Linked DNA regions of Homo sapiens. The protein of the gene in region 2 purifies or fractionates together with the protein of the main gene of each other region. This does not show direct contact. Each region holds a gene or a part of one and is shown on either strand. Other genes may lie near its edges.

What was found.
Region 1: the proteins of ARHGAP26 (region 2) and REPS1 purify together in Homo sapiens (affinity purification with mass spectrometry, with the first as the bait; one large-scale study listed by BioGRID). This does not show direct contact.
Region 3: the proteins of ARHGAP26 (region 2) and TACO1 purify together in Homo sapiens (affinity purification with mass spectrometry; one large-scale study listed by BioGRID and IntAct). This does not show direct contact.
Region 4: the proteins of ARHGAP26 (region 2) and FIP1L1 purify together in Homo sapiens (affinity purification with mass spectrometry, with the first as the bait; one large-scale study listed by BioGRID). This does not show direct contact.

What each region holds. Positions count from the first base shown.
Region 1 is NC_000006.12:138,946,754-138,950,253, reverse strand, and holds part of REPS1 (ralBP1-associated Eps domain-containing protein 1), read left to right. Parts: intron 1-2,340; coding exon 2,341-2,464; intron 2,465-3,500. UniProt on the Homo sapiens protein: May coordinate the cellular actions of activated EGF receptors and Ral-GTPases.
Region 2 is NC_000005.10:142,902,877-142,906,376, forward strand, and holds part of ARHGAP26 (rho GTPase-activating protein 26), read left to right. Parts: intron 1-663; coding exon 664-793; intron 794-3,500. UniProt on the Homo sapiens protein: GTPase-activating protein for RHOA and CDC42. Facilitates mitochondrial quality control by promoting Parkin-mediated recruitment of autophagosomes to damaged mitochondria.
Region 3 is NC_000017.11:63,603,895-63,606,379, forward strand, and holds part of TACO1 (translational activator of cytochrome c oxidase 1), read left to right. Parts: intron 1-639; coding exon 640-746; intron 747-2,418; coding exon 2,419-2,485. UniProt on the Homo sapiens protein: Acts as a translational activator of mitochondrially-encoded cytochrome c oxidase 1.
Region 4 is NC_000004.12:53,384,141-53,387,640, forward strand, and holds part of FIP1L1 (pre-mRNA 3'-end-processing factor FIP1), read left to right. Parts: intron 1-3,500.

The sequences.
Region 1 (3,500 bases), on a different chromosome or scaffold from region 2:
AGTCCTCCTACCTTGGCCTCCCAGAGTGTTGCAATTACAGGCATGAACCACTGCTCCTGGCCTCAATAGTTAACTATTGAGGAGGATCAAAAGGATATCTGATTTGTTTCTCATTCCAAAATAAATTCCAGTTTGGTCAGACTTGTATATTTTCAATATTAATCATAAACATTCTAGAAGAAAACATGTATAAAGACCTTTTTTCTAAGTCTAGCAAACCCAAAAGTCCTAAAGGGGAAATGACAAGCTTGTATAAAAATTGGAAAATTCTGTATCACCAAAACAGCTTTTTTGGAAAAAACAGATAAACTAGAAAACAACATGTGCAATATGATCTGGTTTCTGCCTAAGTCATCAGCTCCATCTGCTGCATTCCCTCCTCCCCATCAATTCTACACACACTTACAGCTACACTCTGGTCTTTCCTTCCTGAGGATGCTCAGTAAATAGTCATTGAATAAATGAATTAATTCCATGACAGTTTGCAGGTCAATATGTATAATATAATAAAACCTTTTTTTTTTTTATGAGATGGAGTTTCAGTCTGTCACCCAGTCTGGAGGGCAGTGGCATGATCTCGGCTCACTGCAACCTCCATCTCCCGAGTTCAAATGATCCTCTCACCTCAGCCCCCCGAGTACTTAGAATTACCAGTGCGCACCACCACACCTGGCTAACTTTTGTATTTTTAGTAGACATGGGTTTCACCGTGTTGGCCAGACTGGTCTTGAACTCTTGATCCCAAGTAATCTGCCCTCCTTGGCCTCCCAAAGTGCTGTGATTACAGGCATGAGCCACTACCCCTGGCCACAATAAAACTTCTTAAAATGAGTAAAGAAGATTAACAGTCCATTTAAAGTTGCCAGAGAACAAGTTGGGCAAGTCAGGAAAAGAAATGCAAATGGCTAACAAATATAAAACTTTTAATAAATACCAATTAAAACAGCATTGAGATTCTGTTTCCCTTCTTGAACACTACCTCCTCATTTCTAACCATTTCCCTGGTGTCTTCCCAAAATGTCAACAAACCATACTGTGATCTCCTTTTAGGTCTTCCCTCTGTCTAGCATATACCTGGCATATGTTAGTTGCATTGTTATATAAACAAAAGTATTTAAGATATGTAATGAACCTCTAAGAGGCGTCAAGTGGGCAGAAGAGTAGAGGATTGGGGCTGCATGACCTTGCCTTTTTAAACTCCCCTTTTCCTCATAGTTCCCTTGATGGTGTTAACCTGCCTGTTTATTCTCTTTGCCCTTTTACATTTCTTCAGAAGGACATGCTCCTTAGTGGCAGGAACAGGAACTTCTTCCAGTGCTGGTCAGCCAGCAAAAATGACTCTTTTTTGTGTATGTAAATAAATGGCTGTTATTGTTGTGATACAATTGCTTAATCATTAATAGGTCCTTTTTTTGAAGTCCTGTGAATAGTTTTATTCAGACTTAATACCACAGCATCTCAGATACCTTATCTTCCTTTGAGTGTTATGGAAAAATAGACTAAAACTGCTCTCTCTATACAAAAGTTTGTGTTATTTGAAAAGATACAACAGGCATGCCTAGTGTTTATTTTAAGATAAGATTATAATATCTGCATAGTAGAAACCTCCAGCTTTTAGAGTTATGATTTTGTAATCTGAAATCCTATTTTTTGAGTCTAATATTTACTTGTGCTAGCAAGTCTAGAAATACTTGTTGAAAGACTGGAATGATTAATGTAGATCCTTGAACACTTTCATGCTCTAAAAAAGACAAATTTTGTTTGTTTTAAAGAAGAGTAGTGTAGCCATATTAAACACATTTGGAAAATAAGAGGGAAAACCCGACTCAATCTCATCTGAAAAAATTGTGATAGACTTTTAAAAAATAGTTTCCAAATTTGTATTTATGTGGTTAAAATTAGGTATCTTGCCTTTCTTCCCCACTTGATAAATCCTTAGTATTTTTCCATGTTGTTATATCATTTAAAGACCGTCACTTTAAATGGCTGCATAATAGTCTCTTAGTCACATGGTCCTATTGTATGTGCAGTGCTTATGAATAAGAGTGGGTGGTACGTTGTTTCTTTAAAAATGTGACTCATAACAAAAATTTATTCTAAGAAAATTGCTAATCATATGGATTTTGATAAATAGGAGAATGATGACCTTATTGCAAAGCAGTGACTTTTTGTTTGTAAACATATGAACCTGAAACTTGAGGAAGTTGGTTGTCAGTTGTGAGTATTATACCATCTATTAGATAGATATTTTGAGACGTTACAAACAAGTTGGGTAGCTGCTTATTTTTGAAGGGAGATTTTTGTTGTGAATCTTAATGTTAACATTATGTTATTTTATAGATCATGGAGCTTTGTGGTGCAACAAGACTTGGTTATTTTGGAAGAAGTCAGTTCTACATTGCTTTGAAACTTGTAGCTGTTGCCCAGTCTGGTTTCCCTTTAAGAGTGGAAAGTATAAATACAGGTAAATATAGAGTACACTAGTAACCGAAAGAAAATAGGCTTCTATTACAAATGAAGTCAAGTCAATAGAACTCTTGTGTCTTTCTGATCTTATAGTGGCATTTGTGACCTTGAGTGAAGTGTCGTGACTTTATTCCCACTACCTTGCATTTCTCACTTGAAAATACTAGAAAAATATGTCTGACCTGTATTACGGCATAGTATATGTACTTCATCTGTATTTGACTATATGTACTGTTCAAATGGCAATTTTTTAAGAATTAATTTACCAAAAGTTGTTTAGAAATATTTTAGGCGAATAGTTTTATTAAGGTAAATGATAAATTACAGCGACCATCTTCATGTATAGCGTCCCTGTGTTCTTCATTTCCAATAAAACAACATTATACTTTGTATTTTTGTTTGTTTGTTTGTTTGGGAAGGCTGTGGAGGCTTCAGTTGAAATTAAGAAGTAACAGTTAACCTAAACTTTTTGATCGATAAGAGACAATATTAAAATATTGGCAGACTAAAATCTAGTTATAGACATCTGACCACATTACAAGTTTGTATTAGTCCATTTTAACACTGCTATAAAGAAATCCCTGAGACTGGGTAATGTATAAACAAGAGAGGTTTAATTGACTCACTTCTGCATAGCTCGGGAGGCCACAGGAAACCTACAATCGTGGCAGAACGTAAATGGAAAGCAAGGCACATCTTATGTGGCCACAGGAGAGAGAGAGAGAGAGAGAGAGAGAGAGAGAGAGAGAGAGCAAGGGGGAATAGCCACAGACATTTAAACCATCAGATCTCATGAGAACTTGCTCACTATCACAAGAGCAGCATGGGGGAACCGCCCCCATGATCTAATCACCTCCCATGTGGGAATTACAATTCAAGATGAGATTTGGGTGGGAACACAGAGTCAAACCATATCGAAGTGTTACATCAGATAATTTGTTTTTCAAGTATTTAGAGGCTTGTTGATGTGAAAGAAGATAGAAATTCTATAAAGAAAGGCACTTAAATGCAGAGGGTTCTTTCATTTTCATAGA
Region 2 (3,500 bases):
ATGCTGGTGAAAACACCTGTGACAGAGTGAGGGCACCTGGACTCGCAGAGGGGGAAATAGAGCTGTGATGCAGATGCAGCAGAGGTCTCAGTGCAGGGGAGGCTCTGGAGCTGGGATGATCCTTCAAAGTCGCCCTGAATACAAGCAAGGGGGCCAGGCTTTCAACCCCCTTCTGCCTTTCCTCTAGCCTTGTCTAGTCATTGGGTGCAGGCTGACCTTGAGTGAAGGAACTCCCCTTTTAAGGAGGGACTCATCTGTGAGCCATCAGCAAGCAACATTCATGGCAGCTGGAGAAATGAACGCCTAGGTCCTTAAGTCATACAGGCCCCTAGAGCATCTGAATCAGAATCACCTGGGAGGCTTATCGTAAAACACACTTTTTGGCATCCAGAGGTGCTGAATTGATCTGTAGGAGTGAGGGCTGGGCATTTGCATTTTCTATAAGATCCCTAGGTGATTTTGATAGTCACTAGAGTTTGAGAGTCATTCTGGTATAGGACTTTAAGGCCAAAGTATACTTGTCATAAGGGAGTATTTGGCCAGTTCCTGGAAGGTTGAATGTCCTTTATCTCATTTTAGATCTAAGGATTCTATTAGGTTGATCTGGATTGTTAAAACAGATACTTTGTTTCTTTGATTTGAATAAAATTATTTTCATCCTAGACAAGAAATCGCTTTGAAGGCACTAGATCAGAAGTGGAATCACTGATGAAAAAGATGAAGGAGAATCCCCTTGAGCACAAGACCATCAGTCCCTACACCATGGAGGGATACCTCTACGTGCAGGAGAAACGTGAGTGCTTTGACTAGCAACAGCTTGGGATGTACTCAGGCCTCTTACCTAGAAGGTGGAGGATGTATTCAGCAGTGCCTACCTTACTGTAGATACATGCTTGGATAACAAGAACAATTTTATAGTTCACCTTTCCAAAGAGAAAGATGATGTCCACAGAATCTTGTCTACCTTTGTTTTTCTTTATGAATGGGAATTCCTTTGGGAACCTGCAATTCTTTAAGGCTCTGTGGTTGCTCTTCTCTCTCTAATGTTACTCTACTCTTGGGGTTCCTGTACCCCTAGTCCAGCTTTATGTACCATACCCTGAGCATAGCAGCCTTGGAAAGGTCTTACATGCTAGGCCCCTGTTATCTATCAGCAGTGTATCCTTTGGTAGACTTAATACTTGGTGATTCTGTTTTCATTTGACATTGTTTCAGCAAGGCCCAAACAATCATGACTTAGGCCTTTTTCCTCTTCTCCTCAACTCATTTCATTCCAACACTTGAATTTTATGAAAAGTAGGAACAAAGGCTCACTTCAAGAGCCAAGAAGAAGGCTGCATGCGGTGGCTCACGTCTGTAATCCCAGCACTTTTGGAGGCTGAGGTCGGTGGATTGCTTGAGCTCAGGAGTTCAAGACCAGCCTGGGCAACATAGTGAAACCCTGTCTCTACAAAAATACAAAAAGTAGCCAGGTGTGGTGGTGTGCACCTGTGGGCCCAGCTACTTGGGAGGCTGAGGTGGGAGGATTGCTTACCGGAGTGAGCCTGTTGAGGTTTATAAGAGCTCAGGAGGTGGAGGCTGCAGTGAGCTGAGATTGCCACCACTGTACTCCAGCCTGGGTGACAGAGCAAGACCCTGTCTCTTAAAAGAAAAAAAAAAAAGAGCCAAGAATACTCATTGTTCTGCCAGTGATGTCTAGGAAAGGAATGCCAGGTGCTGCTAACATGGACATTTTAGTGATGACTCACAAGTTCATGCCTTATGGCTGGGGAAAGGCTCTGTGATGGGGCCGTGCCGTTTAGGATAGCACATTCAGACTTAATTCGTGTATGCAATGCTAGGAACGAAAGAAAGTGAATGTTTTTTTCTTTAGTGGGTAATTCTTCTCCTAGTCCTTTGGTAGAGAACATTGGTCTTTTCAGATTTTTGCAGGTTTTGTGTTCTTTCATGTCCTGCTCTTCATGTAGAGTTAGGCAGATGTCTTCACTCCTAATAGCTTTCCGATGGGATAGAATAGAAATACTTGGTTTCACTAATTATTCTATTTAGTAATTACTCAAAAATTTGTTTGGACTTAAGTTTCCTGGTAACTGGGGCAGTAGTGGTGTTGGAGTATTGGCTGTGATGAGGATTACATTCCTTATTCTTACAGAGATGAGCCTGTTGAGGTTTATAAGAAATGTAGCTACTTCAGCTGTGTGTTTTGTATATGCCTGAATACAAAGTGATCCCCTCTTTGCCCAGTGAGAAGATCCCTGCAAAAGGTTTTAGGTCTACTTGAAAATATAAATTTTTAGGACTCTAAAAATATAGTTCAAAGTCCACCTATAATACTTAATTTGTTAATATATCATTCACTTACATATATAAAATCAATGTTGTTTTTTTGCACTCTCATGTCACACACTTTTATTCAGACACTTCACATGCTCTTTCAACATTAGTGTGTTGATTATCATGAGGACACTTTTTTGTTCCCTAACACAGTCCAGAGCACATGATGGGGATACAGCACTTTTTTTTTAATTTTAAATTTTTTGTAACTTGTTATTTTGAAATAATTTCAGACATACAGAAAAGTCGCAACAATGGTGTAAGGAACAACCATAAACCCTTTACCCAGTGCATCAATTTTTAACATTTAGCCACAATGATATCATTCCTTCTCTCTCTGTGTGGGTGTGTGAGTATTCACGTGAGTACAACTTGCATACACACACATACACACTTTTTTCTGAGTCATTTGAGAATATGGTTGCATATACCATGCTTCTTCAGTAGTGAGTATTTTCTAAGAATAAAAGATATTCTTTTTATGTAAACACATCTGTTAGGTTGGTGCAAGAGTAATTATGGTTTTTGCCATTAAAAGTAATAGCTAAAATCGCAATTGAACTCTTGCCATTAAAAGTAATGGCTAAAATCGCAATTGAACTCTTGCACCAACCTAATATCAAATTTAACATTGGTGCAATATTTAATCTGAACTACAGTCCGTATTCCAGTTTTGCCAGTTGTATCAATAATGGCCTTCTAAAGCATTTTGTTGTTCTCCAGTACAGAACCTCATACTGCATTTAGTTGTCATGACTTTAGTCTCCTTTAATCTGGAACAGTTCTCCAGCTTTTCTTTGTCTTTCATGACATTGACATTTTTGAACAACACAGTCCAGTTCCTTTATACAGTTTTCTTCAGCATGGGTTTATCTGGTGTTTCTTCATGATTAGATTTGGATTATGCATCTCTGGTCAAATCCTACATAAGAGTTCTTCTCTGGGGCCACATCTGGACACATGTGGTGTCGACCTGCCCCTCAGTGGTGATGTAAATTTTGATCACCCAGTCAAGGTATTGTCTGGTTTCTCCACTATACAGTCACTATTTTCCCCTTGTAACTAATTAGCAATCTGAAGGTAACACCTTAAGATCATGTAAATATCCTTCTCCTTATCACACTTTACCTCCATAGATTTAGCATCCATTGACAATCCTTGCCTGA
Region 3 (2,485 bases), on a different chromosome or scaffold from region 2:
AGTGGTCCCAGCTACTTGGGAGGCTGAGGCAGGAGGATCGCTTGAACCCTGGAGGTTGAGGCTACAGTGAGCTAAAATCATGCCACTGCACTCCAGCCTGGGTGACAAAGTGAGACTTTGTCTCAAAAAAAAAAAAAGTACTTTTCCAAAATACTTATCCAGGCCAGGGGCAGTGGCTCACACTTGTAATCCCAGCACTTTCGGAGGCCAAGGTGTGTGGATCACCTGAGGTCAGGAGTTCGAGACCAGCCTGGCCAACATGGCGAAACCTGGTCTCTACTAAAAATACAAAAATTAGCCGGGTGTGGTGGTGTGCACCTGTAATCCCAGCTACTCAGGAGGCTGAGGCAGGAGAATCACTTGAACCCAGGAGGTGGATGTTGCAGTGAGCCAAGATCGTGCCACTGCACTCCAGCCAGCAACAGAGTGAGACTCCATCTCAAAAAACAAACCAAAAAAACCCGAAAATACTTCTCCGTATCCCACTGAAACACTAGTTAAGGTATTCTAAGGTAACTGAGAGCTAAATGGTGATTTGCCACTCCTTTGGCTTGGTGGGGCTGGAAATCCCTTTTATTCTCCCATGTTGTAATGAGATGTCTTTGCTCACTCTTTTTTTTCTTTTTCTTTAAATCTCAGAAGGAGGCCCCAACCCTGAGCACAACAGCAACCTGGCCAATATCTTAGAGGTGTGTCGCAGCAAACATATGCCCAAGTCAACGATTGAGACAGCACTGAAAATGGAGGTGTGTACTGTTTGACATGCTTTTTATTGATCACAGCCTCTACCGGGCTCATGTCTGGATGGCCAACAAACACACTGTAAATTATCAGAGGGGCCAAGTGCAGTGGCTCACGACTATAATCCCAGCACTTTGGGAGGCTAAGGTGGGTGGATCACTTGAGGCCAGGAGTTTGGAGACCAGCCTGGCCAGCATGGTGAAACTCCATCTCTACTAAAAATACAAAAATTAGCTGGGCGTGGTGGCATATGCTTGTAATCCCAGCTACTGGGGAGGCTGAGGTGGAGGATCGCTTGAACCCAGGAGGTAGAGATTGCGGTGAGCCGAGATTGCACCACTGCACTCCAGCCTGGGCGACAGAGCGAGACTCTGTCTCAAAAAAAAAAAAAAAAATTATCAGAGAGAACGGTAGCAATGTAGTTGACGCCCTCAGCCTAGAGTCTTCTGAGAGCTCACCGTCCTTGGTCATTGGTTCTAGGAGCACAACTGGGAGTAGGATGCATAGGCAGTATGCAGGGCCATACAGTCAAGACCGGGACTGCTCAGCCAAGTTGTAGGGAGATGAGGTATTATAGAAAGAAGGGGCAGTGTGGGAGAAAGCCCTTACGTTAGGTGGAGGAAGTGTTTGTTTTTCAGATGTTTATGCCCTAAAGGAGAAAAGCCAGTAGAAAGGGAGAGGATGGGGGTGATAGAGATGGTGGGAGGGGCAGGTATATAGAGTCCACGTAAGGGTACACCTTTCTCTGGGGCAGGTAGGGAGGCTCTGAGGAAGTAATAGTTATCTTAATAGCTCAAAATTATTGAGTGCTTCCTGCAGGCTAAGCATGGATAAAAACTCTATGTGTGTTATCTCATCGAATCCTCAAAACCACCGTAAGTAGAAACTGAGGCACAGGAATGTTAGGTGAGTTGACTCAAGTCGCATAGAAAATGACAGACTTGAAACCAGATAGTCAGACTTTAGAGCCTGTGCTCTAACCGTTATGCTTATTGCCTTCATGTAGGCCATGGTGCAGAGAAGGTGGTGGAGACAGCAACTATTTTCCCCACCTAGTGGCCCTTTTTACCTTTGTGAAAGAGGAAGGGAGAAGTTATGAGTTGAGAATTCCTGGAAAGTTGCAGGACAGGGTGCTTGGAGTGGGGAATATTGAATACATGGACAAGGGATGAGTAGGGGCATGGAAGGTCCAGAAGAGATTAGTCCCTAGAGCTCTGGATTAATTGTTTCAATTTTGAGACCATGCTGTTTTCAGCAGCTCTTACGACAAGGCCTAGGTGTGTGATATTTCACAGCAGTACTCAGCAGCCCAGGGTAGGGACCTTGAGACTTGACCGGTGGGTTTCTTACAGGATGGGGGTGTAGGAGGATGAGTCTGAGTGGGATTGGGTAGGGACTAGATGTGGCATTTGGTTAGGGATGGTAGGAAGCAAAGCTGAGAGATGGCTGATGGATTGTTCAGGGACCGGAGAAACAGACTCCTTCCAAGTTAGGGGTAGTACTTCCTGTTACCTCAAAAGTTGGTTAGAGGGTGGGGACAAAAATAAAGATTGAGAGCTCAGGCTCCAGCCTAGAGAGCCCATCCCATGGAGTTAGTTTTGCGATACTTGTAGTTCTGGGCTGACATGTGGGAAGGAATTGGGAAACAGGAAAATGTGCTTGTGTTGTTTATTGCAGAAATCCAAGGACACTTATTTGCTGTATGAGGGTCGAGGCCCTGGTGGCTCTTCTCTGCTCATCGAGG
Region 4 (3,500 bases), on a different chromosome or scaffold from region 2:
GTTCATGCCTGTAATCCCAGGACTTTGGGAGGCCGAGGCGGGTGAATCACCTGAGGTCAGGAGTTCAAGACCAGCCTGACCAGCATGGTGAAACCTTATCTCTACTAAAAATACAATAATTAGCCAGGCATGGTGGTGGGCACCTGTAATCCCAGCTACTCCAGAGACTAAGGCAGGAGAATCACTTGAACCTGGGAGGTGGAGGTTGCGGTGAACCCAGATCGAGCCACTGTACTCCAGCCTGGGTAACAGAGTGAGACTCTGTCTCGAGAAAAAGAAAAAAAAAAAGTACTATAAATTCTTTGATTAGAATTAGAAATCCTTAAATTGTAATTTGTATCTGTACTTATTATTATTTCACTTTATTATCCAGACCTGAGTTTAGGTTTTTAATTTTTTTGCCTAATAAAAACAATATCAAAAGTATTTCTTTTTGTTCTTAATAGTGTTTTCAGGTTTCTAATTCTCCCTTAGGCCTTTTAGGCCAATGTTTGTCTCCAATTTTGTATTCTATAAACTGGACCAAGTAAATGGACTGTCATTGACTCATTGAGCGCATAAAGAATCTTACAGAAAGATTGGAAGGGAAATACATTGAAGTACGAATTGTGATTTAGTTACGATAGGAGAATAAGAGTCAATGTGTTTTGTTTTTCAAATTGGCTGTATAATGTGGTTATTATAGCTTATGCATTGGAAACATAAAATACATTAATTTCACTATAGTTCATTAAGCAACCTCATCTGGAATCAACCAGTATATACAAAAATATTGTTAAATATTTTATTAGTAGAGTCATTTGTTTTCAGAAGTCATTTCAGGAAGCTTAAAGCCAATTCAGTTATTGTCATAGTCAGTTTTGTATTATAATAATGACTACCCATGTAATTTTAAAATCCTAGCACCTTTTTAGGGAACAGAGTAAAGAGGCTGATTTTTCATGTTAGGGGTGGATATTCTAAATGTGCTCCTCATTCTCATTTGGGAAAGTAAATAATTACTTAATGAGAAAGTTGGGCTTATACTGTAGTACTAGTAGGCCTTTACTATCTGCATGATGCAAAAGGAACACATAAAATTGTAATAATTGCATGTTCATTAAATGTTATGTAAAATTATTTGTATTTGCAAGTTATAGAACAACTTGAAGCAAATGACAATTTTTTTGGATTATGGATGGGACCTTTTTTTGGTAGAAATTGCACTCAAATATTAAATATACGTGGACTTCCATAGTACCTTACTAAACTTTATTTCTTATAGCAATTTTCAGTTTTATGCATTGTAATTATGTTTATACATATTTATTACCTTTACACACTTCAGATTTCTATAGAGTAGAAACCATTGAATTCAAAACTCTTCAAAAAAACAAGAAACTGTGATTTATGGAGTTTTCTATTCCTCACATTGCCTTAAATACAGTTAAGTGTGCAGTAAATGGTTATTGACTAAATAAACTGAATGTTATTTAGTTACAGTTGTCTCTGAGGGTTTTTCCCCTTAGACATTTGATTATGAAAATTTTCAAATGCTCACAAAAGTTGAAGGAATTGACATGTGAATGCTCATTTACCCATCACCTAGATTATACAATCTACATTTTGCTTTGTTTGCTTGAACTCATATCCCTCTATGCGTTTACCCATTTATCAGTTGATTTATTTTTTATTCATTTTATGCATTTCGAAAGTAAAGTACAGGCATTTGTGAAGAGTGTAAAGTTGTTTAACCTCTATATTTCAAGGTATATCCCTTGAAAACAAAGTCAGTGAGAAAATGAAATTTGATAAACATTTACTTATGCACAGCGTTTTCAGAAGCAAATTTAAAGAACAAACTGTGTCCAAGGACTGAATTGATTTATTGTAAATTGTTAGGAAATACAAAATAGCATTTTTTTTTTTTTTTTGCGTAACATACCTTTGTTACAAGTTCATTTTATATGTAAGTAAGGTATGAAGAAAAGCAACTCTTAAAGTAGAAATAATTTATCTTGGAAAGTAGTTTGTTACCTATCTCTGTGAGATTGATCCATTTATGTACTCAATAAATAATTTTTAAAGACATAATTTATCTGGCACTGTGTTAAGTAGCAAAGATAATGTGCCTTTATCAAACCATCTGTGATCATTCCATTATTATTATTGTTTTTACATTTACCATGCTACAAAAGAACCCTTGGTAAAATCACCATGAAATTTCATGGAGTTAACAAATTAGATAAAGTTACATGAAAGCAGCAATTTTTTATCTGTGAATGTATTAATTGATGAGAATACAGGAAGTTATTATTTTCCAGAGGTAGTGAGGATGCCAGACATGTGAGTAAATATTTTCAGTGCAACATAAGTGCTAGAATAGAAACATGTACAAAGTGATTCGAAAGGTTTGAGAGGAGAGTTGCTAAAAGCCTACAGGTGTTGAAGAGAAGATCCCAGAGGTAACATTTGAACTTGTTTGAATAATTTTTGAGATGGGAGACAGTGGTTTTTAGGTGGAGGACACTGCCTAACAATAAATATATTAGATGCGTGCCTTGGAGGAAGTACATGGCTGGAGGATAAGGTAGATGAAAAGAGATGGTTGAAATCACTTATGGAAGGAGTTAGGATGCTTTTGCTATGTCTTTGTAGACCTTGCAAGCTTGTCCAATGCACCTTATTTTGTTGCTGTTGTTGTTCTGTTTTGCTTTGTTTTAGTCTTTTAGCTGCCCAAAGCCATGGTTTTTAGTTTCTGTCTCCAGTGATAAGTGGAAAAGAGGGGTGATAAAGGGGCTTTACTGGCCTAACCAGAAACAGAAACTAAGGACTCATGACTGTATTCTCTCCCTTAGACACCCCTAATTAGGTTTTTAGACAGGTCATATCATTTGAAAAGATAACTCTAGCATCAGTAGTTGAGATGGGTTAGATAGAGAGACATTGACTAATAGATGTGAAGTAGTTGTCCAGGTGAGATGATAATCTAGACTAAGGCAGCAGTAGTAGAGAGATGAATGGGAAAATAGTACATTTGAGTATTAGAGAAACAGAAATATAGTCAGGCATGTGGTATACACCTGTAGTCCCATGGACTTGGGAGGCTGAGGTAGGAGGATTGCTTGAGCCTTGGAGTTTCAGGCCAGCCTGGGCAATATAGTAAGATCCTGTCTCAAAGAATAAATAGAAACAAATAACATGGGTAACTGGTTGGTTGTGGATGGAGGAGGAGATAAAGGGCTCAGTGACTTAAAGATTTCTAGAGCAGTTAATTGGGTACAGGTGGGTGCTACTGCTCCCACCTCCCACAAAACAGATTCATTTGACATGTTTATTTTGGAGTTCCTATAGAAAGTCCAAGTATAGGATCTAGCATTTAGAGTGGTCTGAGACTTCATAGGGATCTATTGGACATTATATCAAATTTGCCTCTGCAATTTTTCATACCACTAAGCTTCTCTACACAGGCTTCTCTACAAAGGCTTGTGGCTTAAAAAAGAAAAATGATGTTTTAAAAG